Homo sapiens: one gene and its partners. The protein of the gene in region 4 interacts with the protein of the main gene of each other region in a biochemical or structural test. Each region holds a gene or a part of one and is shown on either strand. Other genes may lie near its edges.

What was found.
Region 1: the proteins of HSPD1 (region 4) and ERG form a complex in vitro, tested with the Homo sapiens proteins (one large-scale study listed by BioGRID).
Region 2: the proteins of HSPD1 (region 4) and PLG form a complex in vitro, tested with the Homo sapiens proteins (one study listed by BioGRID).
Region 3: the proteins of HSPD1 (region 4) and CLU form a complex in vitro, tested with the Homo sapiens proteins (one study listed by BioGRID).
Region 5: the proteins of HSPD1 (region 4) and DHFR form a complex in vitro, tested with the Homo sapiens proteins (one study listed by BioGRID).
Region 6: the proteins of HSPD1 (region 4) and CA2 are reported together in a solved structure, tested with the Homo sapiens proteins (one study listed by BioGRID).
Region 7: the proteins of HSPD1 (region 4) and SUPT6H form a complex in vitro, tested with the Homo sapiens proteins (one large-scale study listed by BioGRID).

The regions. Positions count from the first base shown.
Region 1 is NC_000021.9:38,397,478-38,400,977, reverse strand, and holds part of ERG (transcriptional regulator ERG), read left to right. Parts: intron 1-332; coding exon 333-404; coding exon of another isoform or gene 405-616; exon of another isoform or gene 617-906; intron 907-3,500. UniProt on the Homo sapiens protein: Transcriptional regulator. May participate in transcriptional regulation through the recruitment of SETDB1 histone methyltransferase and subsequent modification of local chromatin structure.
Region 2 is NC_000006.12:160,712,244-160,715,743, reverse strand, and holds part of PLG (plasminogen isoform 1 precursor), read right to left. Parts: intron 2,759-3,500; coding exon 2,619-2,758; intron 951-2,618; coding exon 830-950; intron 1-829. UniProt on the Homo sapiens protein: Plasmin dissolves the fibrin of blood clots and acts as a proteolytic factor in a variety of other processes including embryonic development, tissue remodeling, tumor invasion, and inflammation. In ovulation, weakens the walls of the Graafian follicle.
Region 3 is NC_000008.11:27,601,201-27,604,700, forward strand, and holds part of CLU (clusterin isoform 1 preproprotein), read right to left. Parts: intron 3,196-3,500; coding exon 3,091-3,195; intron 1-3,090.
Region 4 is NC_000002.12:197,493,341-197,496,840, forward strand, and holds part of HSPD1 (60 kDa heat shock protein, mitochondrial), read right to left. Parts: intron 2,037-3,500; coding exon 1,954-2,036; intron 1,413-1,953; coding exon 1,317-1,412; intron 911-1,316; coding exon 817-910; intron 153-816; coding exon 1-152. UniProt on the Homo sapiens protein: Chaperonin implicated in mitochondrial protein import and macromolecular assembly. Together with Hsp10, facilitates the correct folding of imported proteins.
Region 5 is NC_000005.10:80,644,984-80,648,483, forward strand, and holds part of DHFR (dihydrofolate reductase), read right to left. Parts: intron 1-3,500.
Region 6 is NC_000008.11:85,474,007-85,477,506, forward strand, and holds part of CA2 (carbonic anhydrase 2), read left to right. Parts: intron 1-317; coding exon 318-410; intron 411-1,791; coding exon 1,792-1,854; intron 1,855-3,113; coding exon 3,114-3,269; intron 3,270-3,500. UniProt on the Homo sapiens protein: Catalyzes the reversible hydration of carbon dioxide. Can also hydrate cyanamide to urea. Stimulates the chloride-bicarbonate exchange activity of SLC26A6. Essential for bone resorption and osteoclast differentiation.
Region 7 is NC_000017.11:28,689,705-28,693,204, reverse strand, and holds part of SUPT6H (transcription elongation factor SPT6), read right to left. Parts: intron 3,124-3,500; coding exon 2,976-3,123; intron 2,285-2,975; coding exon 2,142-2,284; intron 1-2,141.

The DNA of each region.
Region 1 (3,500 bases), on a different chromosome or scaffold from region 4:
ATGTACCATATAATTTTTTAATAAAACGAGATTGCCCAGTGGGAAGTGGGATTGAGGGGGACACAGATAGGGCTTCATCAAGAAGTTATAAAATCAAAACACAAAACGCTTTATAGCAAACGGGGCACAGGAGTACACCAAGGCTCCAAGTTTCACTTCCATCTTGAGAATCTGACAGGTGCACCTGTCTGTTTCTCCGGAGCTCTGTTAAGGCAGGTTTGAGGAGGTCTCTTCCCTTTGTTGTCATAGGGAAAAGTAGATTTGGCGCTGATGTTGAGATCGACAACCACAACAAAAGACCTTCACATGTTTGTCTTTCCTTTTGTCTGCAGGGGGTGCAGCTTTTATTTTCCCAAATACTTCAGTATATCCTGAAGCTACGCAAAGAATTACAACTAGGCCAGGTACGAAAACACCCCTGTGTGATCTCTTCATTGAGAGACATCCCAGATGTCCTGCTGAGATCCGTGCCCTAAGTCACGTGATACAAAGAGAGCTGATCCCGGAGCTGAAGCCAGTCCCAGACAGTCTTATTCTGCCTCTGTTGATTTGGAGACTAAATCCACTCAAACCATTTCATTCAAAGACCACACTAAAGGAATTAAGAGCAGATTAGCCCTTTAACTAGCTTTTCAGAAAGACAGATGGGCAAAGAAGGCATCCTGGATGCCTGGCAGTTAGGAATAGGCCGACTTTTGAACTAACAGAAGGATCTGTCCCTCCTCGGGGGAAGAGCACAAAACAAGGACACTCCCCAGATTCACAGTGACCGATTATCAGTATGTCACAAGAAGCCAGTCTTGCAGAGCAGAAGCATGCAACCAGTAGTATTTACATCTGAATCTTACTGCCTGTCCTCCAAATGATTTAATTAGGTAATAAATTTACATGCCATTCATGCAAAAATAAACATCTATCAAGTGCCCATTAGTGCCAAGCGTGGTGTTAGACTCTGGGAATATATAGATGAACCAGGCTTCAGTAAGCTTCCTGTCTTCAGAAAGTTTACTTCTTCATTCAGCTTGGTTTGTTCATTTGCTGAGTGCCTCCTCTGTGCCAGCCACGGATGGTATGATGGTGAACAAACCGAAATGTTTTGCCTCCAGTTCTAGATGTTTCAGTAGAGTGACCTAGAGCCAGAGAGACACATATGTACACATAAATGTTTTCCCTAATGTGATAGATTTTATGGTAGAGGAACCACTTCTAGCAATACAGGGCGTAGGAGCAGGGGTGGGGAGGAACTCAATCCCCCATGAAAGGCATAAAGATGCTTTCCAGAGGAATGGCCACATGGCAAAGGGGAATTAGATGTTTGCCAGACGAATAATGAGCAGGGAGAGAGGGCATTTCCCAGAAGGGTATAGCTTGCCTTTAGCATTTGTCCTCTCCCTGGGACTTACATCAGCCCGATAAGCTAGGTATCATTGTACCAGCCTCACAGCTGATGACATTGTGTTCAGGGTGGTGGGATGGTTTCTCCATATTCATACATGCTTCCAGAATTCATGTTAAACTCTATCACATATCCGGAATACACAAGTCTCAGTTCGAACTGGTTCAAGATCTAGGCTTGGCAACTACTCTTTCTTTCTAATGAGAAAGACTGGGGGCCCAGGGAGCTAAAGAGAATGAATGAGGAAGCTTCTCAGGCTGTTCAAATACTGACACTGCCCTGGTTACTGCCTAGTGACTTCAGGCTGGCAATTTTCTCTTCTCTAACGTCAGAGAAAAAGTTTACTGTCTTGCTCCTGGGAAGCATGATGGAAAGGCTTAGCAGCTAAGGGGTACTAAGAGGTAGTAAGTCATCTCTGTCATGTAAAAGATTTCACAGGCCATTGAAACATGGGCAAGACCCAGTGCCTAGAGTCTGCAAGATTGGTCCTAAAGACATCCACCACGTGTATTGCGAGTGGAAAATAGAAATTCATGTTTGACTCAAGCTTTAGAGATTTTGTAATTCTGTGAGCATTTAAAAAATATTTCCATATAAACTAAAAAAATAAAAACTATTTCCAAAACATTTGGCTAGGGTTTTAAAAATTTTTTTACTTTTTAATTTTGTATTTGTTTGTTTATGTTAAGACATCTCATAGGTGCCTCTGACTGAGTTGCAAAGCCAGGGGTTGTGAGCTAGTATTATAAACTGTGTTAAAAGATCACAACACTGGCCAAATTCATTGGCACAATCTCTCTGTCAGACAAGCCAGCTGACTGATGCTACCTGGTTAAGACAGTGGGTCCTGGAGCTGCTTTGTTTTCACATTTTAGGATATGGTGGATTTGGAAGGTATGGCCCATCCAGGTGGATGGAGAAGAGGGTGACTGTGAGGATGTTGGTTGGGACTCCCTCTCTGCCCAACCCAGGGAAGGCAAGGGTGGCAAACTCAGACACCTCCCATGCCGCTCTGATGGTGGTCTTCCATGGGCCCATAATTTGAGCGTGACCTGGGAGAGAGCACACTTCCACAGCTCCACTACTAGTCAAGTATGTTTTCGCGACTCAGTTTGTACCTGAAATAACCTGTTTTGACCACTGCTACTGTGATTATGAGAACCAATACAAATATTGGTATCTGACCTGTAAAGAATTTAAAGCAGACTGAACAAGCCAGAGGACTATTTACTGTAGGCCCTATTCAGGGACTTGAACTTGGAGATAAGAACTAGTTATACACCTCGGGTCATCCATTGCTAAGCGATCAACCTTAAAGGACTGCTCCTGTGGAGATAAAAGCTGTGAACCTGCAACTGGAGAATGAACGTCGTGATGGCTGAGGGGGAAGAGCTTTTGCATCACTAACTTTCAGAGCTGAACGAGCTCCAGAGGGAGGTCACTGGGAATCTGACGATATCCCTGTGGTCAGTGGGTACCTGACTACTTTCAGAAAGGTGATTGTTGACTGTTTCTTTGAAGGTCCTTGGGGATACAGACCCAAATCCCTGTCTCCTCCACTCTTGGTTTGCTGTGCCATGATCTTCATTTCCATACCCTTTGTCTAATCCCACATCCGAGGGAACCGAACTCTGGTCAGCGTTATTGTGCTGACCATGAAGCAAGCCAGGCTCCTAGGTAACAACTCTACTTAGACCAGAATCTGTCTCTTCTCTGCATGGTGGCCGTTTCATTATAGAGTCCCTGATAGAGGAGACAGTGGTGTTCAGGGTTTACTGGTTAAATTAGACAGCATTCCGCACCCTTTCTGCAGAGACTCCTACACATGTGTGTTGTCCTGCTGCATCCACCTTCCCAGCACTTCCTCACCACCCTTCCCTCCTTCCCTTCCCACTGTGAGTCACCCATCCCTGGGTTACTGCCCCAACCTACCTTTTCTTTTCTTTTATCTTCTTTTCTCTTCTTTTTTTTTTTTTTTTTTTTTTGAGATGGAGTCTCACTCTGTTGCCAGGCTGAAGTGCAGTGGTGCAATCTCGGCTCACCACAACCTCTGCCTCCCGAGTTCAAGTGATTCTTCTGCCTCAGCCTCCCGAGTAGCTGGGGC
Region 2 (3,500 bases), on a different chromosome or scaffold from region 4:
AGCTATTTGGAATGGGAGGTGTACAAATTCAATAGAGCTGCTTTCCACCGTGGAATCTGTGGCTCAGCCTCACTTCTGCATTCTTGAAAGCCCTGGTATGGCCCTGTAGTCATCATAGAATGAAGAGGAAGACCAGAAGCGACTGTGGAATGGGAGGTGTTTTCCAGCACAATTAATGTGAAATAGAATACTCACGAAACCTTATTCTAGGAACCATCATGACTTTCTAGAGCAAGAAGCTTATTCTTATTTTAAATTCGTGGTCCCCTTAGAGAATCTGATGGAAGTTACGAATCCTCATTCCAGAAAAACACATTGATGTAAATATACATAAAACATCAGGGATTCAAAAATCCATGACGTCTGCTCATAGGTCAAAGGTTAGGAGACTTGAATCTCATTGGTACAAAGGGAAAAGAAAGACAAGGAGTAAAGAGAAAAGGAAAATATTTGGAAAATACACCAGCAACATGTGTGTGTGCATTTCTGAAGACAGATGTTAATGTATTCATTACTGACATTAGTGTTTGAATGTGTGTGCACATCAGCTGAGGATCTGGTTATTATTCAAATCAGATTCAGAGGGTGTGACATTCTGGATTTCTAACAAACTCTCAGAAAACATCCCTGCTGCTGACCCGTGGACCATATTTTGAGCAGCAAGAATGCGTATTTCACTTGCAATATTGTGGGAGGAGGTTAGCTTTGAAATTAAAAACATCAGGCGTTCACTTCTTGAGGAATGCTAAAATATCTAAATGACAGCAAATGTCTGATAGAGCTGCAGAGCCTTAATTAAACATGGAATGTTTTTCCCAGTGAGACTTACTTGGAAGGAATGTATCCATGAGCGTGTGGGCTCTGAGAGTCCCAGGCCTGGCATTCCAGTCCAGACATGGTCTTGGAAATTTTGCCGTCATAGTTTTCTCCACTGCAATGCATACATTCCTCTGGACAGAGTGGGAAGGAAGGACAGAGAGGAAGAAGAAAACTGAAATGGATGAAGCAAAATAGAGAGTAAAAACCAGAATCCTACTCACTTAAGTGCGACTTGCCTCTCATTCCGATGTAATTCACAACAGGCACTTGGCAATAAAATTGGCAATAAGGACTCAGGATTTTCTAGCATAATCCAAATGTCATTTTCCTTTTAAACCGTAACATTCACATATTTTAGTCAATACTCCCTCAACTATTGTAGTCATGACCAAGTTCAGAATTTCCATGATGCCATGTCCTTAGACCGGGATGCACAGGCCAGTGGGGAGCCAAGGGTGCATATATTCCCAGGAGTCTACGTTCTCCATTAGGAGTTTTCAATATTTGGCATCTTCATTTCAATAATGATCTTTAAAACTTTGTATGAAATTATTCTGATCATTCCGCTGACTGCTGAATGACCTGGCACCGTCTCAGGGTTTTAGTCTGGAGTTTTTGTTTATGCTCATGGCCTCAGGGAGAACAATATTCACCTGAAGTGACAGCGCTTCTCTTTTTATGTTGTTGAGAAGCATGATTGGCTCTTTTTTGCAAAATTATTCACAAACTTAAACTTTGATTCAGAATTATTGAAGTAACATGGTGAGGCAGAGTAATATGTGACTTAAATTTTATGGAGTACTAAGGAAAACGGGCAGACTTAATATAACAGTGATGCATTGGTGGTGCTTAAGGGCAAATACCTATAACATGGTGTACAAATAAAGGATCCCCGTGATTCGAACAGGTGGAAGTGATGGGAGAACTGAGTTGTCACACAGTACCATATCCACACTGTCACACAAATCTCACCTTTATTTATTCCCTTTTGCACTAATGTAGCCAGAAATGTGAAACGATGACAGTTTTTTCAGTAGGATTTTTTTAAAATTTTTTAGCATTGACCTTTGAGGTGCACTATTAAATTGCTCAGTCCATTCAAATAATGGATTGCTGATTTAAAAACTGGTTCCTTGCTTAGCTTCAGCAAAACAGCAAAGTCTACCACATTAAATATATATTGTTTATTTGATTTTTATTGATTTTGTTGTTTTATTTTAACTATTTAATTGCAAACCTGTCTTGGGGTTAACACTGTGTAAGAGTTGTAAGCATAAGAAGTTTGTACTTAGAGTTTAGATGTAGTTTTATATTTGTACATGTTGATGTAACATTTTAATAAAAATAATTCAGGTCTGCTGGGCATGGTGGCTCATGCCTGTAATCCCAGCACTTTGAGAGGCTGAGGCAGGCGGATCACCTGAGGTCGAGAGTTCAAGACCAGCCTGACCTACGTGGAGAAACCCTGTCTCTACTAAAAATATAAAATTAGCCAGGCATGGTGGCACATGCCTGTAATCCCAGCTACTTGGGAGGCTGAGGTAGCAGAATCTCTTGAACCCGGAGGCGGAGGTTGTGGTGAGCCGAGATTGCACGGTTGCACTCTAGCCTGGGCAACGAGAGCAAAACTCTGTCTCAGAAAAAAAAAAAATTCAGGTTAATTCTGGGGTTTTGCTTCTTTCCGAGAGGTGAATACGTTACTCAATTATTAATAACATCCCTGTGGGAAGGGGCTTTACAACAAATTATTTTACAGGTGAAGGGCAGAAATGAAAACATTTTCTAGAACCACTCCTGACCTTCACACTCAAGAATGTCGCAGTAGTCATATCTCTTTTCTGGATCAGTAGTATAGCACCAGGGCCCCTGCGGATCGTTGTCTGGATTCCTGCAGTAGTTCTCCTCCAGTCCCTCTGAGGGGTGTGTAGCAGGTGAGAATCTGGGGAGGATGGAAAAGAAGCACTTAGACTATATTCTAAAAATCAGCTTGCTATTAGCAAGGCAGAAGGAGATGCTCTCGATTCCCATCTGAGATTGTCATCCAAATGCATTTCAGCTGGGTGCTGCAGCATTTGTGTGGTCAGATTTTCAATTTCTCTATTGATAGGCTGCTTCTGGCACAGTAGCTAATATTACCATTGCTACTGTGACAGCCAAGTCTTAGAGAGCCAAAATATTTTTATTGCACAGTCAGGAGAAATATAAAGGCCTCAAAAGGCTGCCATGGTCTTAATTCATTCCAAACACCTGCTTTTGTCAGTTACCGTTTTCTCTGTAAAAATTTTTGTAGTTAATACCATTTTGTCCATGTGAACTATCTGCCAGGAATTCCACTAACATCTTTCCACACATTCTCTCTTTTAGTCCTAATAAAACCATTTGAGGAAGGTGTTATTATCCCTATTTTACAGATGAGAAAACTGAGTGGCAACGTAAAACAAAACAAAACAAAACTTGCCTAAGTGTAAATAGCTATGAAGAAGCAGATCAAGAATTCAAAGTTGATCTGTCTGATTCCAAAGTCCTGGTTTTCTCTGAAATGCAGCTTGAATTATTGGGGATGGAGGAGGGATTTAAGCTTATTTTCAGTTCTAGAGATGAGTTGCTGTATAGAGACAACCATTTAGATGAAAATCACAAGACTTACAGTCTAGAAAGGCAGGTTTTATTTCTGGTTCTTC
Region 3 (3,500 bases), on a different chromosome or scaffold from region 4:
ACCACCCCCGGGTGATTTTTTTGTATTTTTAGGAGAGACAGGGTTTCACCATGTTGGCTAGGCTGGTCTCAAACTCCTGACCTCAGGGGTCCACCCACCTCGGCCTCTCAAGGTGCTGGGATTACAGGTGTGAGCCAATGCACCCGGTCCAAACTTGTCTTTTGAGCATGTCTGTAGAGGTGGCAGTTCTGGTGCCAGGAGTTCATGCAGCTGATGCACTGGCACCTGGTGGCCAGGGGTCCTTGCCTGCCCACCTGCCCGCCCATGGCTGGTCAGTGAGTTCATCAAGAGAGCAGGGAAAAGAGAATTCATTCCTCTTGGCCCTGGGCTGCAGGTTGTCAGATTCATTAAGACCTGGAAACTGTCCACTAGCTCTTAAAACTACTGTTTTTCTCCCCCTAAGGTATTTCAAAAATATCCAGAGGCAGGTACATCAAACGTGAGTCAGGGGAAGGGAGATTTTGCATATGCTTTAGGATGATGACTGCAATCATTTATAGTAAACAAAATGTTAGGTGGGGAAAGAAACAGAATTACTAACAAGATGCCAGTTTGAAAATAAATATGTAATAAATAAACTTCATTATTTTACCAAAAAAAAATTTAAAAATAAGAAAAACTAGCTCACACCTGTAATCCCAGCACTTTGGGAGGCTGAGGCAGGCTGATCACTTGAGGTCAAGAGTTTGAGACCAGCCTGGCCAATATGGTGAAACCCTGTCTCTACTAAAAATATAAAAATTAGCCAGGCGTGGCGGTGCACGCCTGTAATCCCAGCTACTCAGGAGGCTGGGGCAGGAGAATCGCTTGAACCCAGGAAGCAGAGGTTGCAGTGAGCAAAGATTGCGCCACTACGCTCCAGCCTGGGTGATAGAGCGAGACCCTGTCTTAAAAAAATAATAATAAAATAAGAAAAATCCTTGAGAGCTGAGGCTTAGTCTAGAATAGAGGTTCTCTACTGGGGTGACGCTGTCACCCAGGGAGATTTAGCAAGTTCTGAAGCTGGTTGTCACAACAAAGGGAAGGGAGCTGCTGACCTCTAGTGGGCAGAGGCCAGGAATGCTGCCAAACACCCTGAACTGCTCAGGACAGCCCCCAACGACAAAGAATGACCTGGTCCAAAATGTCAGCACTGCTCACACCTGTAATCCCAGCACTCTGGGAGGCTGAGGTAGGAGGATCACTTGAGCCCAGGAGTTAGAGACCAGCTTGGGCAATGTAGCAAGACCCCATCTCTACTAAAAATAAAAAAATTAGCCAAGCATGGTGGAGCACACCTGTAGTCTGTTACTCAGGAGGCTGAGGCAGGAGGATGACTTCAGCCCAAGAGGTCTAGGCTGCAGTGAGCTGTAATGGTGCCACTGCACTCCAGGCTGGGTGATAGAGAGAGACCCTGTCTCAAAAAAAAAAAAAAAAATCAACAGCGCTGAAATTGAGAAATCCTCATCTAGAGTTCCCAGGCAGTACGTGCTTATATGGTTGCAAGCACCTTAAATAACAGTAGGCAGTCCTCTTCAGTGTAGACTATTTAGCTCAGCTTAGAGAATTATTCTTACCAATAATTCTCTAAGAATCTATCTCAGGTCAGGCACAGTGGCTCACACCTGTAATCCCAGAACTTTGGGAGGCCGAGGCGGGCAGATTACTTGAGGTCAGGAGTTCAAGACCAGCCTGGCCAACATAGTGAAATGCTGTCTCTACTAAAAATACAAAAATTAGCTGGGTGTGGTGGTGCACACCTGCACTCCCAGCTACTTGGGAGGCTGAGGCAGGAGAATCACTTGAACCCAGGAGGCGGAGGTCGCAGTGAGCCGAGATAGAGCCACTGTACGCCAGCTATAATCAATGACTGATAAGACTGGCGCTGGCTGCACTCTCAACTGTAATCAATGACTGTTAAGATTGGCGCCAGACCTGAGCCCAGCCTGGGCAACAGAGTAAAAATCAGCATAAGAGGTCCAATCTGGGCACAGGCATCTGGACATCTTTTCTCAGACCCTAACATGACTTTCTTGTGGTGAGGTACCATGTAATTGATGCCACTCTATGATATTTTTTATAGAAAAAGCCCCAAGGCCTGGTTGTGCACTCATCTACAGCAACTTATACTTCAGCCTGTTAAAGCACAACTGTTTATTTTGCAGTGGCTTCTAAAATTATAGGAGTGAGGCTAGGAATGTTTAACTAGACCCTGGCGGCCTGCCATGGCAAACTCAAACTAAGCATTAAGTAAGAGCAAAGCCACCAGATCGATAAGCTGTTGACAAGGGGAAACAATTAACTCTTTGTGAGTATGAACTGCTGTGTACCAGGAACTAGTCCAAATACTGTCACAGCTGTTATCTCTAAGTGGAAAGAAGTTAACCCATAACCAGAGCTGGTGAAACGGAGGGGGACAGTTAAAGGGAAATATTCCCTTTGCCTAGGGGACCAACCAACCGACCAAAGGGACTATTGCTTGGATGCCCAGGTACTGAGACCCGTGACTTCTGTGGCCAGAGGCTGCGAGGGGCCCCAGGAGAGAACACAGCGCCCTAGGATTGAAGCCCAGCTCGCCCATGTCGGGGTCAATCTTGGATAAGTTATTAACCTTTCTGTGGCTCAGTTTCCTCAGAGGGTCATTCTGAGGAAATGAGGAAATGTATGTCGAGTGTTTAGAACAGTGCCTGGCCTCTGGTCAGTTTTGTTAAACAAAACACATACTGTCTGCAATGTCATAATCTGCAGAGGAAAATGAAGATGCCTACTGCGCTTGGCGCTTGGGAACAGAATCACCGGGGAGTCCCAGGGGGATGACTTTTTTCAACAAGCTTTTTTCAACATGGGGCCGACCAGGTGGAGGGCACTTTTGCATCTCTAACGACATCTCACCGACTTCAGGGACAGCCTCGCATCATCATCTCATTCTAAGATGAGGAACCGAAGCTGCATGAGGCTCAGGACCTGCCCCGGGACACAGCTCAAAGGCTGCAGAGCTGGAATCCAAACGCTTATCTGTCTGACTCCATAAAGGCAGCACCAGTGAGGCCCCAGTGACCCCAGGACACAAGGGATCAGGGGGGACGGCTTGTGGTCTGGACCCCGACTCACCCACAGACAAGATCTCCCGGCACTTGTCACACTGGTCCTTCATCCGCAGGCAGCCCGTGGAGTTGTGGCGGATCTCCCGGCACACAGTCCGGTCATCGTCGCCTTCTGGGGACACACGAGGGAAGAAGAGTCAGTCATCCAGCCATGCAGAGATGGACTCCACTGATTCCTATTGTTATTTTTATTTATTTTTTAATTTACAGACAGGGTCTCACTCTGTTGCCCAGGCTGGAATGCAATGGTGCAATCATAGCTCACTGCAGCCTCCAACTTCCAGGCTCAGGTGACTCTCTTGCCTCAGCCTCCCGAGTAGCTGAGACTACAGGTGTGCACCACCACACCCGGCTAATTTTTTAAGTTTTTATTTTTGTAGAGACAGGGTCTCACTATCTTGGCCAGGCTGGTCTCAA
Region 4 (3,500 bases):
ACTTAGAGCTTCTCCATCAACATCTTCAGCGATTATGACCAAAGGCTTACGGTGAGCATTGGCAATTTCAAGAGCAGGTACAATGGACTGGATACTAGAAATTTTCTTTTCACTCAACAGAACATAGGCATCCTGGAATTCACATTTCTGACCTGTAAAAATAATGAAGATTTCAAAAATATACAAAAAATGACTGCAATACATTTAAATGAAAAGCGAAACCAAGGTTCCAATACACTTTAAAATTCACCAGTGAGTTGGTTTTCCTCCTTCATTTCTCATATGCATTAACTTTTGGAATATATACATTTATTTTTTAGAGGATGACACCAACTAATACCTATAGTTTGACACATATTAGAAAGTATATTTTAAAAACTTCAGGAGGCCAAAGCAGGCAGATGACTTGAGGCCAGGAATTCAAAACCAGCCTGGCCAACATGGCTAAACCTTGTCTCTATTAAAAAATTCAAAAATTGGCCAGGCACAGAGCCTCATACCTATAATCCCAGCACTTTGGGAGGCCAAGGTGGGTGGATCACCTGAGGTCAGGAGTTAAGAGACCAGCCTGGCCAACATGGTGAAACCCCATCTCTACTAAAAATACAAAAATCAGCCTGGCATGGTGGCGTGTGACTGTAATCCCAGCTACTTGGGAGACTGAGGCAAGAGAATCACTTGAACCCGGAAGGCGGAGGTTGCAGTGAGCAACGCGCCACCACATCATGCCACTGCACTCCAGCCGGGGCAACAGAGAATGAGACTCTGTCTAAAATAATAAAAATAATAATAATTCAGTTATTGATTTGTTCTTACCTTTTGATGTATTAATAAAGTATGGAGAAATATAGCCTCGATCAAACTTCATGCCTTCAATAATTTCTAATTCATCATTCAGTGTTTTTCCATCCTATGAAAAGTCAAAGAATTAGGTATATGGATTTCATTGAACACAAAACATGGAATTACAGGCCAGATTAATAAAAACAGACCCCTCTGGCCATAAGAGATGCAGGGTAGAGTATGAAACAGCCCAGGACATCCAATTACACTTCTGCAAAAAATCCCAAAAGTGCTTATTTGAATAATCATTTAAGTTAGGATGGATTCATTTCATGCAGCAAAGGCTAATTCACATAAAACACAGTAAGTACTTTATTCTATACATGTGCTGAGACTACATATGAAGGAATAAAAAAAGCAGTTTTTAAAACAGAATTTTTCTGTTTGAAAAATTCAGTTTTGATCATCAGATAACTCAAACTTTTGATCATAAGATAACTCAAAATTATCTTTAAAAATACAAACACACTTGCCTTTACTGTGATGACACCCTTTCTTCCAACTTTTTTCATTGCATCAGAGATGATATTGCCAATTTCTTTGTCTCCGTTTGCAGAAATCGTAGCAACCTGAAATAATCCAGTTACTCTTCGAAATTAAAAGGTAAGCCTAGTGTCCTCAGTCAGTTCCCTTACCTTTTCCTAGTAACTTCCAAATTGATACTTCCATCCAGGGGAGAGAAGGGGAATTTACGTTATGGTAGTTTTCATGAAGTACTGGTTCTTTGCTCTTTTCCGATTCATTATTTGACTACATTGTTTTGAAGAATATGATACATAAAACTATTCTTGTAACAAAAAGTTTAAAAATGCTGACTTCATTACAAACTGACAAAACTTATGCACCTTTGACAATGGCTAAGAACATTTTCACAATCATATGAATCCATTTTACAGCCATGTAGAACTAAAATGACAACCACATGTAGAACTAAATGACAACCATTATGGTCATAATTCTTTTCAAAGGTTTTAGCAGTAAGAAACAATGATTCTAATATTGATGATTGGGTAGTATTGTTATTCTGACATTGGTGTGATCAAGGGAAAAAAAAAATCACACATGCCATTAAATTTTTTTTAAAAAACGTGTAACATGTTAAGTCCTTACCTGTGCAATTTCTTCAGGGGTGGTCACAGGTTTAGACTGCTTTTTAAGTTCAGCAATTACAGCATCAACAGCTAACATCACACCTAGTTCAACGATATATGTCATTACAATGTTTATTTCTCTCATGGCTTCTATGTCAAGTAGAAATCTTGAGATTTGTGACAAATATTTTAATGCCTTAACTTAAAAAAAAAAATTTTTTTTTTTTTTGAGACAGGGTCTTGTTCTGCTGCCCAGGCTAGAGTGCAGTAGCACAGATCATGGCTCACTGCAGCCCTGACATCCTGGGCTCAAGGGAGTAGCTGAGACCACAGGCTCAAGCCACCATGCTCAGCTTCTTTTATTTTTGTAGACAAGGTCTCACTATGTTGCCCAAGGTGGTCTTGAACTCCTGGGCTCAAGCAATCCTCCCACCTCAGCTTCCCATGTAGCTGGGACTACAGGCATGTACCTATGCTTGGTCTTTAGTGCCTTAATATTAAATTTACACACAGCTTCTGAGACAGTGCTTCTTAATAACACAGAGTTGCGTGGCATGTACTTAAACAGTAACTTTAGGTTCACACAGTAAATAAAATCTCACAATGCCAAAATTTTGAAAATAGGACTAAAACAAGGTAGATGTGTGTAGTTTCAAAAGTCTCACCACTGAACTCATCCTATGCAAATTCCTAACCCAATCATGCTGTTTCCAATAGGGTCCACGACACTTCTCATGTCCATTAGATGATGCAAAAAAGGACCAAAATGGCTAACACTCCCTTATTTTCAACAAGAAGTACAGTTCTTAAATGATAGGAATCTGTTGTGACTATGCCTCTGCAGGTGTCAATTATCTGAAATCCCCTCAATTTAGTACGTATTATGAACTAACAAAATATTTTTGTTTTACATCAGTCTTAATAGTCCCATTTTGCTCAATTGGGAATAGTGCTAGCTCTCTTGTTTGAGAACTGTTACTTCAAAAAAAATCCAATGCAAGGTGCTGGTAAGTCCTCTTCATAACCTTAATTAATACTTGTTAGTGATTTACAGTAAAACTGCTTTTAGTGAAGTATATTCACTTGGCCCATAAACACTGAAATAGATGAGGTAATGATACATTAGTAATGTAGTAATAAATTAGTATGCCAATTCTGACAAAAAATTACCAATAGCTCCCCCCACCTTCACTTACAAGAGGGTTCCTGGTTTGAACCCTAACATACCCTAGATATACATAGCAATTCTGCTGATAGGAAAACCAAGTCTTAGCACACAGCTAATAAATGACAAACATGGGACTAGAATTTAAGTCTATACTGCCATGAACCTCATGAGGAGGAGCAAATTGTTAATTAAGTTGCACTCTAGTTACAAGCACTAACAAAACACAAACCAATAACATGGTGTGTGCTATTAAGAAAAAATAAACTGAGGAAAACATTACTTTCTGACATTCTGAATGATCCAGTGTATTTAGTCTTACTTTCTACAAAACTAAACTAAAAATTAGCCAGGAATGGTGGTGAGTGCCTGTAGTAGTCCCAGCTACTTGGAGGCTGAGG
Region 5 (3,500 bases), on a different chromosome or scaffold from region 4:
TTGTCATACCCAACTAAATCAGAGTTGAGGGGCCAGGGGAAAAAAGCACTCAGGGTATAAAACATTGCTCCAAGAATGTAATTCTCTGTAAGCCTGACTGCTGGAACTGCTTGTTGTAACCTGAAACCAGTTTTATCTATAGCTTCTGAGATAACTTGCTGCAACTCTAGAACTGATTTTGCCCACCACTCACTGCTCGCCAGTCGGAGCTTGCTAGCTCCCCCAAACCTTAGTAGTGCCAATGAACTTTCTCAAAGAGCAGTAACATTTCTCCTTTTAAATAAAACCTCTAACCTTCCCTTTGTTCTTCAGACATATGGAAGGTCACTTGTCTGCATGTATGCCCTAAACTGCAATTTTTTCTTCCCAAACACAATGTTAAATTTAGAGAATTCATCGCAAAATTTTTATTTTGCCTTTGATAATACTAAAAGGTTGGGACAGCAGAGCAAGGTGAAGATAGAAAAAAAGGAATCCAGAATCAAGTCAGGGGAGATGAGAGAGTTGATTTAGGTGGCAGTGGATTTTTGTCTCAAGATGGAGGGAAACAAGAACAAAGTAATATGTTAAGGTGAAAATGAGATCATGAGTCTGTTCACTGTGATTTCATTAATATTAATATTAATGTGTATGTTCTATAAGATATAAAGTAGCAAGTTTATGGGGGTGGGGGTAGGAACTGATATCTATACCCTTCTGTGTGCCAGAAACTTTACATACAAAATTTCAGTGAGTCTTCAAAATCACCCAAAAAAGTTGTCATTATTCATCTCATTTAATAGGTAAGGAAAGAGGTTCAACAAGGCTTACTTGTAACCTGCCTAAAGTCACAAAGTTATTAGGTGCCATAGTAGACATCAGAAACCAGGTCAGTGTTTGCTACTCCAAGTGTGTGAGTGGTAGGGGGAGAGAGAACTGCACCTTCAAGAAGTTTTAATCACTGTGGAGATTCTGATAGTGAGATCGTAAAAAATTATAACATGAAATTAAGTTAACTTTCGTGGATGGGAGACTATTTAAATCTTACATAATGGAGGCAATTTTGGATTTTCTAAAGATGGTGTCCAGGCTACTATAGCATTACAGTAAAACTTGTTTATTTAATTTTTGGTTCCAACGAGGTTTTTTTTTTTTTTTTGAGACGGAGTCTTGCTCTGTTGCCCAGGCTGGAGTGCAGTGGTATAGTCTTGGCTCACTGCAACTTCTGCCTCCTGGTTCAAGAGCTTCTCCTGCCTCAGCTTCCCGAGTAGCTGGGATTACAGGTGCTTGCCACCACGCCTGGCTAATTTTTGTATTTTCAGTAGAGACGGGGTTTTGCTATGTTGGCCAGGCTGGTCTCGAACACCTGACCTCGTGATCTGCCCACCTCGGCCTCCCAAAGTGCTGGGATTACAGATGTGAGCCACTGTGCCCGGCTGGTTCCAAAGACTTTTAAAAGCCACTTTATTGATATAAATCACACACCATAACATTTACCCTTTTAAAGTGTATAGTTCAGTGACGTTTAGTAGATTCAGAGTCGAGCAAGCATCACTCCTATCTACTTTTAGAACAGTTCCATCACACCAAAAAAGAAAACATTCTGTACTCATCAGTGGCCATTCCCACCCTTCTCACCTCAAGTTCTTTTAAAGCCACAACTTGACTGTCTAGACAACTTTGGAAAAGCATTTTCCCTCAATACCTTACTTAAGAAATATTTACCCTAAATTACTATAGTGTTTGGTAGAAAATTTTGTGATCACTTTGAGGATTCAGTTTCTTCTTACATTGGGGGAGAGGGGTGAAAAATGAAGTATCTTTAGAGTTGGCATAAGCAAGTGATTTCCATGTATAAATCTCTGCCCTCTTATTCAGGACCCTGCAGTGCCTGGCACTCAGCAGCTGTTCACTATATGTGTGGGACTGACCAACAAGTAAGGAAGTGGAAGGAAGAACAACAACAAAAAAGAGCTCTAACATTTTTTACTAACTGGTATCACTATTTCCCTGGCATGCTTGATAACAAAGACTTTAAATTTTCTCAGCCTTAAAAAAAAAAGCACAAGACACCAACATATGTTATATATAAATACAGAAGAAGCAACCAAACCCAATTACATGCATCACAGGAAGGTCGTAAAAAAAAATTACACTCATCATATTCGAGGAGAAATGCTGGCTCAAGTGAACATCTCCCCCACTGAGATTTCTTTCTGTTTGAGCTTAAGCTAGCCATAAACAAACTTGAGTAGTATTCAAAAATATCATTAAAGAGTTTCTTGGAATGGCGATATAGTCTGTGAATTTGAAATCTACCAAGGAAAGAGATAATCAGAGCATCCTAGCAACCAGAAGAAAGAACAGCATGAAGATGGAAGCAGGCAGCAAGATGCACATCAACAAATCTGCCCCGTCGCCCAGAGGCAATCAATGCAAATATTCTATACACTTTCTTCTCGGTTTTTACCTATGCCATTCTAGGAAGAACTTGGGAGAAAATCTATGTAAGCCTGAATCCCCTTAGCCTATATAGCTGTGTAGTTCTTTCCTTCCCATAGTGTTAAACTTGACTAGGATATAGTCCTTGGTTATTCAGATACTGTATCTAGGTGTTGCTTTGAAGGCATTTTGTAGATGTGATTACAATTCAGTTTTTTTTTTAAATTTTTTTGAGACAGGATCTCACTCTGTTGCCTAGGCTGGAGCGCAGTGGTACTATCTTGGCTCACTGCAACCTCTGCCTCCTGGAAACTACAGGTACATGCCACCACGCCTGGCTAATTTGTTTGTAGAGACGGGGTTTCATTATGTTGCACGGTTGGTCTCAAACTCCTGAGCTCAAGTGATCCACCTGCCTTGGCCTTCCAAAGTGCTGGGATTGCAGGGGTTAGCCACTGTGCCCGGTCAGACTTTAATCTGAGTGGGCTGAATCAATCAGTTTAAAGGCTTTAAGAGTAGAGTTGAGGCTTTCCTGAAGAAATTTCACCTGTACCACTTCAGCCCCTGCTGGAGAATTCCAGCTTGTCCTTTCTGATGGCCCGTTTTACAGATTTTTGGACTCACGTACCCAGCCCCCATAATTGTGTAAGCCAATTCCTCGCAATAAAACTCTTTAATATACCTGTATCTATCTACTACTGGTTCTGCTTCTTTGGTTGAATCTTCACCAATACACATGGGAAAAGAATACTATGACTACTGTTCCCAAGAAAGTAGTGCCCTAGGATACTGCATTCTTTTTGGTGATTATATTATTAGACTAAGAATGATTAACATGCCAGATCCCAGACCTTCCCCTTAGATCCTGATATGGTTTGGCTGTGTCTCCGCCAAAATCTCACCTTGAATTGTAATAATCCCCACATGTCAAGGGTGATACCAGGTGGAGATAAATGAATTATGGGGGGTGGTACCCCCCATGATGTTCTCGTGATAGTTAAGTTCTCATGAGATCTGATGGTTTTATAAGGGGCCTTTCCCCCTTTGCTCGGCACTTCTCCTTCCTGCCACCATGTGAA
Region 6 (3,500 bases), on a different chromosome or scaffold from region 4:
TCCAACTCCACCATTTGCAAAAAGTAAACGGACTCAAACTGGAGGATCCTGTTTTAACAGAAATTTAGAAATAAAATGTGTGCCTTCTGTCAAAACTGTACATTTATTTGTCTTAGAGTTATTGATGAAAACACTTGCTGTTATACCAAGTACTGTGTGGATGATTAGAATTAAAATGAAAGGAAAATTTTGATTTAAAATTATCCATATTTTCAATTTCCTGAGTAACCTTTATTGTGAGAAAAAGACCATTGAATAAAATCTGTCAGCTTTGATTATGTAAATCACTCACTGTGGCTTTGTCTCTTCGGCCTTAGCTTCACTTGGTTCACTGGAACACCAAATATGGGGATTTTGGGAAAGCTGTGCAGCAACCTGATGGACTGGCCGTTCTAGGTATTTTTTTGAAGGTTAGTTGATGACCCAATTCTTTTTTTTCCCTATTTTTAATAAAGAATGACCAGACAGAGTATTTGTAACATACAGGACATTCTACAAAAGAGCTTAGGAAATGCCTTTGTCCCTGAAATGTTTTCAAGTTTATCTCCTCCTTTCATATCTGCTAGTTGCAGTGGAGATGGAGGGCAGAAAGACAATAGGAGAGGTACTTATTTGGTACCTTTTGGATGTAAATGTGAAGAACATAAAGAGATCAACTTGGGTGACTGCTAGGTGTTTGTTTGTTTTCTTTTCATTTAACCTGAGGCTAGACAGTACTATATTATGATAAAGTAAGATCAGGTTCTGAAGAGGGGAAGGACAGTGAATTTCAGGCAACAGTGGGACAGAACCGGTTGAGCTGCCCTCTAAACAGTGGTAAAGGGGAATGGAGAAAGGTCTGGGCTGGAGATTTATGAGCTCTGATTCATATGTTGAGGTGGAAGCTACAGGTGTGTATGAAATCATCCAAGTACAGCACGAAGAGGGAGATGAGAAATCTGCCCAGGGAGCAATCCTGAGAAACTGCAAAATGTAAGGCCTTTACAAGGGGAGAGATGCAAATTAAACAACTTAAAAGGGGCCAGGTGTGGTGGCTTAAGCCTGTAATCCCAGCACCTTGGGACACCAAGGCAGGAGGATAGTTTGAGGCCAGGAGCTCAAGACCAGCCTGGGCAACATAGCACAATTCCATCTCTACAAAATTTTTTTAAAAATTAGCTGGGCATAAAAAACAAACTAACAAACAAAAAAACAAAACAAAAACAAAAACACAAAATTAGCTGGGCATGGTGGTATACACCTGTAGTTTCAGCTACTTGGGAAGCCAGGGCAGGAAAATCACTGCAGCCTAGGGGTTGAGGTTGCAGTGAGCTATGATCATGCCACTGCACTACAAGCTGGATGACAGAGCAAGACTCTGACTCTAAAAAAAAAAAAAAAAAAAAAAAAAGCGAGAGTCAAGAGAGATTTGGGTTGCTGGAAGGCGTAGGGAAAGCCAAAGAAGAAAATAATTTTTAAAAAGAAGGGAAGACCATAGTGTAAAGTCCTACAAGGAAATCAAGGCAAGCCCTTGAGGAGTATCCTTTGGCAGTTAGAGGTCACTGGGGACAATTGAGCTGGTGGTTTCAGGACTACTCTCTGAGTGGAATTAGAGGCGAGTTGAAGATTCAGTGAAAGTAGGCAAGTCTATGGTGTCAGTGTCATCAAGCCAGTACTGATGGGGGTCATGTATGAAGTGGAGAATTTGGGCTCACTATTTGGATGTTTTCTAATAGAGCTACCCAAATAAAAATAAAAACTGGTACAGTACCAACTGGGTGATAGTATCTTGCCCTTTATGTTTTTCTTTAGGTTGGCAGCGCTAAACCGGGCCTTCAGAAAGTTGTTGATGTGCTGGATTCCATTAAAACAAAGGTAAATTTGAATTTTCTGCCACCTCCTTAGGGTACCAATTTTCAATACTCCATTGGTTTTAGAAATTTCTTTTGATCAAATTGCACAGTCTCAATGACATGTGGTGTTTGGATGAGCAGTTAGTAAAGGTAGAATATTACTTAAATATTTAATTAACGTTTCTTTCAACAAAGTTGATCCTAATGCTAGCATAATTCTAAGACTTGTATTTATTTAATCTTGCTCCCCCATCATTTGGACATCCATATGTAAGAGTCAGAGAATCTTATGCCTGCAAGGAGGTTCAAAGGTCCTCTAGTCAAATTATTCACTCATTCATACAGCAGATATTTGTTAAGTATGTACTATGTGCCAGTCGCTTTGCAAACTAGTAGACACAATGGTGAACAAGATAAACAAGGCCCTGTTTCATGGAGATTTCTATTCTATGACCTCTTTGCATTCATCCATCCTGCATTTAAATCCTCTCTGCAGCATAGTTGTGTTGAGGTCGTTGAGCATCTGTTTAAACACTACAGTCACTTCCGGTGATGGGGAACTTATCACCAGGGGCAGCCCTGGCTTTATAAAGCTGATCTTCACATTGAAGCAGCATCTATCCTCTGAAATGCTCACTCACTGGCTTGAGCCCCTTGAATTCATAGAATAAACCTGATCTCTCTTCCAAATAACTCTACTCTGTCTCTACTTTGTTTTTTCACCTACCCCAAACTAATTATCTTTAGTTTCCTTTAACTATTCTCATATGATATAGTTTTCTCTCTTTGCCACCACCTTGTCATTCTTCCAGTAAATCATTCCTGTTTGCTTGAAAAGTGTAGTGTCCAAAACAGAATGTAGTTATTTGATTCTGACCTAGAGCAAGAAAATCACCTCCTCATCAGGATACCATATTTCTGTTATTGCAACTTGAAGTCACCTCATTTTAGTGGCAGCAGTCTCACTTTAAATACTGGGTGTGATCAGCTAATGACTTAATGGGGAATGTAAGGGATCATTTTAGATAAAAGGCCAAGATGAAAAATGGACATGTGAAAATAGTTTTTTTTTTTTTTTACTACGACTTGCCACATATTTTCAAGTTGAATGTCTTCTGTTAATTTCTCTTTATTTTGTTTGCCAGTGAATATAGAACCTCTTTTTTAAAAAGTGTTTTTGACCATCAGAGGGGAGTATACCTATTTGTGTCTGCTGCTCTCCTACCTTCCTCCTACTCTGTCAATGTGATAGTTTGAAGCTGCGTATTTGCCTTGTTCTAGGGCAAGAGTGCTGACTTCACTAACTTCGATCCTCGTGGCCTCCTTCCTGAATCCTTGGATTACTGGACCTACCCAGGCTCACTGACCACCCCTCCTCTTCTGGAATGTGTGACCTGGATTGTGCTCAAGGAACCCATCAGCGTCAGCAGCGAGCAGGTTTGTTTTGTAATGACAGGTCTGTTTACGGGTGGAGCATTTAGTCAAGGCAGAAGACCTTGGCCTCCAGAGTGAGAGAGAACTGAGATTTAATCCTTCTCCTGCTACTTCTTGCTATGGAAATAGTGCCTTTGATGGTGCCTAGCAAATAAACAGCGTTCAGTAAATCTTTGTTGTTATTAACTATAAACTTAGTTCGTTTAGTCTCTAAAATTGAATAGTCATTGTAAG
Region 7 (3,500 bases), on a different chromosome or scaffold from region 4:
ACAGGCGTGAGCCACCACACCTAGCCATCTTTTTCTTATGACAGTATCACTCTTTTGCCTAGGCTGAAGTGTAGTGGTGCAATCAGGGTTCACTGCAGCCTCAACCTCCCAGGCTCGAGTGATCCTTCCACCTTGGCCTCTCGAGTAGCTGGGACTATAAGCGCACGCCCCCAAGTCTGGGTAATCTTTTTTTTTTTTTTTTTTGAGACAGAGTCTTGCTCTGTTGCCCAGGCTGGAGTGCAGTGGCACAATCTTGGCTCACTGCAAGCTCTGCCTCCCGGGTTCACGCCATTCTCCTGCCTCTGCCTCCCGAGTAGCTGGGACTACAAGCGCCCGCCACCATGCCCAGCTAATTTTTTGTATTTTTAGTAGAGATGGGGTTTCACTGTGTTAGCCAGGATGGCCTCGATCTCCTGACCTCGTGATCCACCTACCTTGGCCTCCCAAAGTGCTGGGATTATAGGCGTGAGCCACTGCACCCGGTTAAGCCTGGCTAATTTTATTTTGTAGAGATAGGGTTTTGCCATGTTGCTCAGGTTGGTCTTGAACTCCTGGGCAAGCACTCCACCTGCCTCGGCCCCTGAAAGTGCTGGGATTACTGGTGTGACTGTGCCCCATCCTCTTTTATGTTTATCCAACTTAGATCCCTTTAGCTGCAACTGAGGCCCCTCCCTTTTGTGTTTTTTTTTGAGATAGGAGTCTCACCACCACACCCTGCTAATCCTTATATTTTTAGTAGAGATGGGGTTTCATCATGTTGGTCAGGCTGGTCTGGAACTCCTGACCTCAGGTGATCCAACTGCCTCAGCCTCCCAAAGTACTGGGATTACAGGCATGAGCCACTGTGCCCGGCCTGGCCCCTCCCCACTTTTTTTTTTTTTTTGAGACAGAGTCTCGCTGTCGCCCAGGCTGGAGTACAGTGGTGCAATCTCGGCTCACTGCAGGCTCCGCCTCCCGGGTTCACACCATTCTCCTGCCTCAGCCTCCCGAGTAGCTGGGACTACAGGCGCCCACCACCATGCCTGGCTAATTTTTTGTATTGTTTAGTAGAGACAGGGTTTCACCGTGTTAGCCAGGATGGTCTCGATCTCCTGACCTCATGATCCGCCCGCCTCAGCCTCCCAAAGTGCTGGGATTACAGGAGTGAGCCACCGCGCCCGGCCAGCCCCTCCCTTTTTTTAAAAAAGGAGATGGGGTCTTGCTATGTTGCCCAGGCTGGCCTCGAACTCCTGGGCTCAAGAAATCCTCCCAAATTAGCCTCTGATGTAGCTGGCACTATACGTACGTGCCACCATGCCTGTCTGCCATTTTGTTTTGACCCAGCGACCATAAGAAGTTTCTTTTTTTTTTTTTTTGAGACGGAGTCTCGCTCTTTCGCCCAGGCTGGAGTGCAATGCTGCTATCTTGGCTCACTGCAAGCTCCATCTCCTGGGTTCACGCCATTCTCCTGTCTCAGCCTCCTGAGTGGCTGGGACTACAGGTGGCCGCCACCGTGCCTGGCTAATTTTTTGTATTTTTAGTAGAGACGGGGTTTCACCGTGTTAGCCAGGATGGTCTCGATCTCCTGACCTCATGATCCGCCCGCCTCGGCCTCCCAAAGTGCTGGGATTACAGGCGTGAGCTACTGCGCCCGGCCGACCATAAGAAGTTTCTAAGTCAGCCTTTTTTTTTCCTTTTCTGAGATGAAGTCTCATTCTGTCACCCAGGCTGCAGTGCAGTGGTATGATCTCGGCTCACTGCAAACTCCGCCTCCTCGGTTCAAGTCATTCTCCTGCCTCAGCCTCTCGAGTAGCTAGGATTACAGGCGTATGCCACCACAACTGGCTAATTTTTGTATTTTTAGTAGAGACGGGGGTTCACCATCTTGGCCAGGCTGGTCTCGAACCCCTGATCTCAGATGAACCGCCCACCTTGGCCCCCAAAGTGCTAGGATTATAGGCGTGAGCCACCGTGCCCAGCTATGTCAGCCTTCTCAGAAGGGACTTCATGCTAAACCTGTGTGTTTCCCGTCCGTCTTCCTTCTTTGTGTACTTGTTTGGTGAGAGAATGATCTAGAACACCCTCATTTCTGATTCCCTTCTAGGCACCGAGATCATTCAACCAAGGAAATCCACTGAGCAGGATAATGCTGCAGCACACACCTCGCTTAGTTCAGGGAAATTGTCCTGCTGACAGAAGGGGCACTGCCACAGCCCTGTCTCATCATTGCGGATCGCCTGGTCATAGCTCTCACCCTGGGGACGCCTGTGGGCAATGCCAGTGACATTGCAGATGATGAGCTTTCCTGCAAGAAGGAAAAGAGGATGGGGAGCAGGCTCAGAGAATGTGGAGAGCACTTCTTTCCACCAGCCTTTCAGTGACAGAATATCTGACTTCCTTCCCATCCTTGAAGAGGGAACTCTTCCCGATTTTTATTTATTTATTTATTTTTGAGATGAAGTCTTGCTCTGTTGCCCAGGCTGCAGTGCAGTGGTGCTATCTTGGCTGACTGTAACCTCTGCCTCCCAGGTTCAAGGAATCCTCCTGCCTCAGCCTCCCGAGTAGCTGGGATTACAGGTGCCCACCACCACGCTCAGCTAATTTTTTATTTTTAGTGGAGATGGGGTTTCACCATGTTGCCCAGACTGGTCTCGAACTCCTGGCCTCAAGCAGTCTGCCTGCCCTGGCCTCCCAAAGTGCTGGGATTACAGGCATGAGCCACTGTGCCTGGCCGTTCCCCTGATTTGATGATAGGGGAAAATAAAGCCTATAAGAAGACTAACTGCATGAAGATTCCATAGCACACTGGAAGCACATTTGACCTTAAATTCAGTTTTGATTTCCAGTCCAGGACTCTTTAGTCTTTTAAAATGCTCTCCTGGCCTTCCCCATGTACAACACAAACCTGCCTCAATCTGTTGGAACTGCTGCTTGGTTTGAATGTACACAGTAAACACACCTCCTGCCCCCAATAAAAAAATGACCCCAGAATTTACCAATGTAGAAGGTCTCTGGTGTTTCTTTGGTTAACATATTGAAGATCTCCTCTGTGTTGGGAGAGCGGTAGGCTGTCCGGAGGTCCTTATATCGACAGCTCAGCTCTGCCCGGATGTCATAGAGTGTGATGTGTTTGTCACCATAGCCCTGGGGAAGAAGCCCATCAAGAAGAGCCTTGCAGCTGCCCCCCAACCTGAGCCTCAAGGAGTCCCGTGGAAGGGGCGGGCCTCTCCAGATGGGAGTAAGTTTCTGTCAGGGCTTCTTCTTTTCTTTCCATCAACATTTACTAAAGGTGGTTTTCAAACTTAGCCATGAAACACTGTAATCAAAATGCTTTATGGAACCCCAATGAGTCCACAGATAAATGCAAAGCTGTGCTGTTAGAAAGGAGGAAAGGGGGCCTAGACGGAAACTGTAGTACTGACATCCTCCCAACTCCCTCCTGCCCCTTGTAATTATGGTGGCAATCTCTGAGACTTCCCTGGCTCCTTAACAAGCAGACCAAAAACTTCCTTGAGGAGCCC